Linked DNA regions of Homo sapiens. The protein of the gene in region 1 interacts with the protein of each later gene in a pairwise test. Each region holds a gene or a part of one and is shown on either strand. Other genes may lie near its edges. The genes, in order: SPIRE1 and BBS4.

The links.
Region 2: the proteins of SPIRE1 (region 1) and BBS4 interact in a two-hybrid assay, tested with the Homo sapiens proteins (one large-scale study listed by BioGRID and IntAct).

The regions. Positions count from the first base shown.
Region 1 is NC_000018.10:12,445,926-12,449,301, reverse strand, and holds the end of SPIRE1 (protein spire homolog 1), read left to right. Parts: 3' UTR 1-2,790; downstream 2,791-3,376.
Region 2 is NC_000015.10:72,688,932-72,692,759, forward strand, and holds part of BBS4 (BBSome complex member BBS4), read left to right. Parts: intron 1-3,828.

The DNA.
Region 1 (3,376 bases):
GCTTCTCCTACGAGAATCAGTCTAACAGAGATGCCGATGTCAGCACAGCCCTAAGCAGTAAGTCATATTGGCATTTCCACGTGACTGTGTTTCTATCCCGTGTACAGAGAGATCCAGAGCCCTACACTCCACGACCTGGGGGCTCACAGCACAGAACCTAGAAGCACCTGCTGACACTCTTCAACTGATTTTTAAATGTTGTTGCTTGGAGATAAAAATTACATAAGGGACTTTTTGCCTGCATTCTAGTGCAAAACATCTGAAGAGCTGTACACCCACAAGGGTGACTATTTCCCCTGAGTGGCCGTGTTGTCCCAGTGCCCTGGTTCAGTGTCTCCTGAGTGGATGACAGGTCTTCATTCTCTATCTTGAATGTATTATGGTTACTAATAGTTTTATAATGGAGGTCTAAGAATTAAAGTTGTGTGGGAGTTTCAGGACAAAGGAAGGCTAAAAGTTTGTCAAGACGTTGAGCGTATTTTGGTTACCTATGAGAAGGGTTGTGACAGTGTACAGTGGCAGCTGTTGGCCACGCTGCAGAAATGAGCTGGAGCTCATGGGTTTTCAGCTACATTTTTCATAACTTTGTAGTACATCCATCTTGAGTAAATTAAGCCACAATTTGGTACCTAGGGTCTCAAACTAAAATTTATTTTTATAAATGAATTTTAAAAGAAAAAATATCTACTTCTTTTAAAGTTAGAAGAAAATTAACCTGCTGACAGGCAACATTTTTGGGGTGCTTTCTGCACTAGTTTTCCTTGTAAATGATTTGAGTGAGTAGGTTTGGTTTCTGACGAAAGTAGACTGGAGGGTAGCATTGTATGCCTCAAATGTCTCAGTGTGTTTGGCTCATACGTGGGCTATACTGTATTATTTTGGTATGCTTACAAATGACTAACCAATCAAATTGTCATTAATGTTTGGAAAATCTGTTAATGCACATGCACAATAATTTCCTGAAAGCCATAGGACATGTCTGTAGTCAGCACCACGATAGCACCGTTTCATGAAAGGCATGGCGGCTGCATTTCATACCACATCAAAATACAGTAACATTTCTATACTAAATTAACAGTAATACCTCAAAACTGCTCCGGTAGTAGTTTTTAATGGATTGAAATTTACAGTTTAGTAAAAGGCTTAAAATTACTTATACTTATGAAATAAACTTTACCAGTTGACTAAAATAATGCATGTTAACAGTTGGTCTGTATTTGCATGTAAAAGTGGGCCACCAGAGAACCCTTATTGATTACTTAAGTGTTTACATTATTTTAAAGACTCCTGTTTAAGAGCTTTCAGAATTGTACTGGGTGAATCTCATTTATAAAACTTCCTAAGAGACTATCTGAACTCTATACTCCAGACAGTTAGGTGGGAGTATAAATCTACCCCTTTTGATGACCCCAGGCTTGAGTTTTTAAAATGACTACCCAGAAGGGCACAAGGGGGAAGGAAATGGTATTTGTATATGTATATAAATATGCACCTAGGAGAATGTGCTTTTTAAAATAATGACTACTGTTTTTATTAAAACATAAGAAACTACACCCCCAAAATAAGACTTTCATTCACATTCACAAAGCAAACATCTAGTACATGTCTTTCACTTCACTTTATGATAGTGTATTGGATGATTTGGGCATTACGATCACCTCTTACCACAGCACAGAACATACATTCTTCAACAGCATTAACGGAGTTTGCCAAGTGCATTAAAGAGGTCACGTGGAGGGTACGTTCATATGAAACAATCTGCAGAAAGTGGGGTAAGAAAGGGCACATGGCACAGTTAAAGTTGTAGAAATCAAATTACTATCATTTTTTGTTGCCAAAACAAAGTCTTACATTTAACCCCCCTTTCTACCACCCCCCTCCACACTTCACGTCAGCTACATAGTTTCCACAGGGTAATTCACTAAGAGCTTGTGGAGCTTGGTTTTAAAATCCTTAGCCTGGTCTGACTTTAGGCATAGCTTCCAGTTCTTCCTTCCGTGTCCTGGTTTCTTGTTCAGTTTTACTTCTAATCCAACAACAAAAGAAATGTCTGGCTGGTCTCAGCTAGAGTCTGATGTGTCTTAGAGCATGTGTGCGTATCTGAACCATCATCCCTGCTCTCATCTCAGCTCCCTCCAGGCCTGAGCACCGGTTCCTTTTGTCCCATACGTCATGAAGTCACACTATTGGGAAACCTGTGCTTCCCTCTCCATGGCTTAACTCCCTGTCAGTGTCGGAGTGTATAAGAATGCTTGTAAATACTGTAATATATTTATTAATATTTGAAAGGCATTCATTCAGTGGACAGTGGGAATTAACTCTCCCAAGGCAAGTGAAAATGAATGATTGACGTACGTTGATTTAACAATCTTACTAGATTTTAATTCTTAAGGATTTCAAATGAAACCAGAAGGTGGTTATGTAAGAGGCTTAAAATGATCTTATGTTTAAAGAGATTCTGTTATTAGCACCATGAACTCGTACTATGAAATTTTTAAGCCTTTTATTTTTCTAACTATATTACTGTAGGACTGGATATTAGGTGTCATATAGGAAACACAAAAGTTTATTGCTGTTTGCTAAAGCAAAATAGCAGAAAATTTTGTATATGCAAAACTGTTGAAGGACCATAGAGAAATGTGTACTACTGACGGGGCTTTTACTAGGCTTCCTGCGTGTGTAAAAGTCGAGGTATTGCTGGCATTCAGGGTGACATGATGGTACTAAATGTTTTCCATTAAAGTCTTCTATTTTAAAATTTAGAGAAAAATAAAATGGCTTTCCATCAGACTTTCTGTGTTGAGTTGCTATCGTAAGACGGTGATGTCTTTTGGTAATTAGCTGTCAGAAATCACCTCAATTGGGAAGGCAGGGTACTTTTATAAGCAGCCTGTGATCTTTGAAGAAATACAGTCTAGGCCGGGCATGGTGGTTCACGCCTGTAATCCCAGCACTTTGGGAGGCTGAGGCAGACGGATCACCTGAGGTCAGGAGTTCAAGCGATTCTCGTGCCTCAGCCTCCCAAGTACCTGGGATTACAAGTGCCCGCCACCATGCCCAGCTAATTTTTGTATTTTTGTACATGGTGGCCAACATAGTGAAACCCCATCTCTACTAAAAATACAGAAATTAGCCAGGCGTGGTGGTGTGCTCCTGTAATCCCAGCTACTGGGGAGGCAAGGCACAAGAATCGCTTGAACCCGGCAGGTGGAGATTGCAGTGAGCTGAGATTGTGCCACTGTACTCCAGCCTGGGTGACAGAGCAAGACTCCGCCTCAAAAAAAAAAAAAAAAGAAAAAGAAAAACAGTCTACAAGGACCGCACTGGAAAAATTAACATGTTGTCACAAGTGATAAGCAGCCATGAGTAGGAGAGT
Region 2 (3,828 bases), on another chromosome or scaffold:
ATTGCTTTTCCTCTCAGAAGCCCCTCTCTCTCACTAGAGAAAGCTGTTCTCCTTTCTTTCTTCTGCCTATTAAACCTCCATTCCTAAACTCAGAAAGAAAAAAAAAAAAAGAGAATGTTACGACTAATTGACTTGGAGGGACTTCCATGGTGTACATTTAAATAAAAGGTAGATGTGAAGTGGGGTATATTATGTGATCTTAATTTCATAACACAAAGGAAAACATATAGATCCGTAGATAAGGATATATGGATATGGAGGAGAGAAAAGGAAAAGACTCAAAACTCACAGAATTTTTGAAGAAATGTATAGCTAAAAATCTAAGAAGGCTACAGTCAAGGCCTTGAGGCCAGAAGACACCCCATCAAAACTGAGTAAAACTAGCCCAGTGTGGGACGCAGAAATTCTAGTATGCTACCAAAATTACTTACGGATTGCTACCAGTTCCTTAGAAGGAAAACTGAGGACTAATATTTGTATTTTCAGTATAGTTTAGAATTCTTAAAAAATGAGCAAACAGGCTGTACTTGGTGGCTCATGCCTGTAATGCCAGGACTTGTGGAAACTGAGGTGAGAGGATAACTTGAGTCCAGAGGTTTGAGACCAGTCTGGGCAACATGTTGGAGCCCCATTTCTACAAAAAACACAAAAATTAGCCAGACGTGGTGGCACGCGCCTGTCTTCCCAGCTACTGGGGAGGATCATCTGAGCCTGGGGGAAGTTGAGGCTCCAGTGAGCCATGATCATGCCACTGGACTCCAGCAGGGGCAGAGTGAGACTTTGTCTGAAAAAAACAAAAAATGAATGAGCAACTAACTCTGGCTTTCATGATTTGTGCTTATAAATCTTTTTATTTATTTATTTATTTATTTATTTATTTATTTATTTATTTATTTTGAGACGGAGTCTTGCTCTGTCGCCCAGGCTGGAGCGCAGTGGCGCGATCTCGGCTCACTGCAACCTCCGCCTCCCGGGTTCACGCCATTCTCCAGCCTGAGCCTCCGGAGTAGCTGGGACTACAGGCGCCTGCCACCACGCCCAGCTAATTTTTTGTATTTTTAGTAGAGACGGGGTTTCACCGTGTTAGCCAGGATGGTTTCAATCTCCTGACCTTGTGATCCGCCCGACTCAGCCTCCCAAAGTGCTGGGATTACAGGCGAGCCACTGTACCCAGCCTATAAATTTTTTTTATAATGCCCTGATTCCCATTATTTGATGTATTTGGATAAATATGTCATCCTGTAAATTGAAGGATTAAACTGATAAGAGCAGAAAACAGAAATTAGTACACTAGTTGATCTGGCTCAGATATAGTGCCTATGTATCAGGTGCTCCATGAATATTTGTTGGATGAATAAATGATCATAAAACTATATAAAAATGAAGAAATAACAGAATAAAATAATTTGTTCTATATAAATCCTATGAATGAGATTGAGTGGGCTAATAGAATCCTTTCCATCTCAAAATGTTCTGGAAAGTCTTGAGTAAAAGACTCATCAAAAAAATAATTCTGCTTTGTGCAGAAAGAAGGGTTGCTGACCTTTGAAGGTGCTTTTTGAGTCTTTAACATTCTTTAGTAGTATATTCCCCAAAGTTAAGAAATTCTAGTTAGATTTTAAAAAATTGAGTTAACATTTAAAAAACAGTTTTGTTGAGGTATAATACACGTACCATAAAATTTACTCAATTTAAGTACAAAGTTTGATCAGTTTTAGTAAATTTATATAGTTGCACAGCTGTCATCAGAGGCTGCTTTTAAAACATGTCCATCACTCCAGAAGGGTTCCTGTGTCAATGGAATTGCTGGGTTATATTGTTTAAGTATTTGTTTAAAAAAACAGAAACAAATCTGCCTAACTTCTGCAGGCTATATACGAGTTAACATTTCCATGAGCAATGCATGAGGGTTGTGATTTTTCCACATCCCTGTCAACACTTGGTTTGTCAGTTTGTTTTTATTTAGCTGTTGTAGTGGATGGGTAGTGATGGTGTATGGTGGTTTTAATTTGTATTTCCTTCATGAATAATGATATTGAAGATTTTTTATATGTTTATTTTCCACCCGTATCTCTTTGGTGAAATGTCTTTATAAATTTTTGTGAATTTTTAAATCAAGATCATTAACCAAATGAGCCCCTCATTTGGGCTCAAGTGATCCTTCCACCTCAACCTCCCGAGTAGCTGGGACCACAGGTGCAGGCCACGCTTGGCTAATTTTTGTATATTTTGTAGAGGCGGGGTTTTGCCATGTTGCCCAGGCTGGTCTTAAACTCCTGAACTCAAGCAATTGGCCTGCCTCACATAAGTATTCTCTTTTATTTTGAGGATTAATTTTTGTTGTTGTGAAATATATCCTACCTGTAAAAGAGTGCTTAAAATGTCGTATGTGTGCTTTAAAGGATAATATAATGGAAACTTGTGTTCCTACTGCCCAGGTTAGGAAATGGGTTATTAATAACTTTGAAACCTCCTAAATGCCTCTCTCCTACTGCATTTTCCTTCCTCCACATCAGATGTAGTGTTTCTTCAATTTTATATTAATATTTTGTACTTTTTATAGTTTTACCATATATGTTTATATATATCCTTAATATATTAGTTTTTAAAATTTGTTATTAACCTTCAGTTTATTCATTATTTCAACACTGTATAGTATCTTATTGTAGTAAAGTATGTCAATTAACTTATCCATTCCACTAGATGGAGATCGGGATTATTTCTGGTTTTTAGTTATTAAAAACAATGCTGCTGCTGGGTGCAGTGGCTTACGCCTGTAATCCTAGCACTTTGGGAGGCCGAGGCTGCGGATCATGAGGTCAAGAGATCGAGATCATCCTGGCCAACATGGTGCAACTCCGTCTCTACTAAAAATACAAAAATTAGCAGGATGCGGTGCTGCGCGCCTGTAGTCCCTGCTACTCGGGAGGCTGAGGCGGGAGAATCACTTGAACCCAGGAGGCGGAGGTTGCAGTGAGCCGAGATTGTGCCACTGCACTTCAGCTTGGCAGAGCGAGACTTCGTCTCAAAAAAAAAAAAAAAAAAAGCTGCTATAAATATGGCCAAGACTAAGGAAAGGTAAGTGAGGTGCTTAGGGTTCACATTTTATGGAGTAAGAGTAAGTACCTTCTTAAGGTTTATACCCTAGGTTCTTCACATGCCTCACTTTAGTCCTAGCCCTGAGCATTATTATGTAGGTCTTCTGATGCAATATCTAAGAGTTTCTCTAAGGTATACCTAGAAATAGATTGCTAGGTAATGGAGTAACTTTATTACTTACAGGAAACTATATGGTGGTTGTAACAATTTATGCTTCTGCCACCAGTCATGGTGGATATGAAATTATGTCTTAATGTGATAATTTACATTGCAATTTTTTTTTTTTTTTTTTTTTTTTTTTTTGAGACAGAGTCTTGCTCTGTCACCCAGGCTGGAGTGCAGTGGCGTGATCTTGGCTCACTGCAACCTCTGCCTCCTGGGCTCAAGTGATCCTTCCACCTCAGCCTCCCGAGTAGCTGAGACCACAGGCGCAGGCCACACTTGGCTAATTTTTGTATATTCTGTAGAGGCGGGGTTTCGTCATGTTACCCAGGCTGGTCTTAAACTCCTGAACTCAAGCAATCGGCCTGCCTCAGCCTACCGAAGTGCTGGGATTAGAGGTGTGAGCCACCACACCTGGCTGTTTGTTTGTTTTGAGCCTGTTCCTCAGGCTGGAGTGCAGTGGTCCAATCATGGCTTGCTGCAACTCCGCTTCCTGGGCTTAAGAGATCCTCCCACCTCAGCCTTCTGAGTAGCTAGGACTAAGGGCACCTGCCACTATGCCTGGCT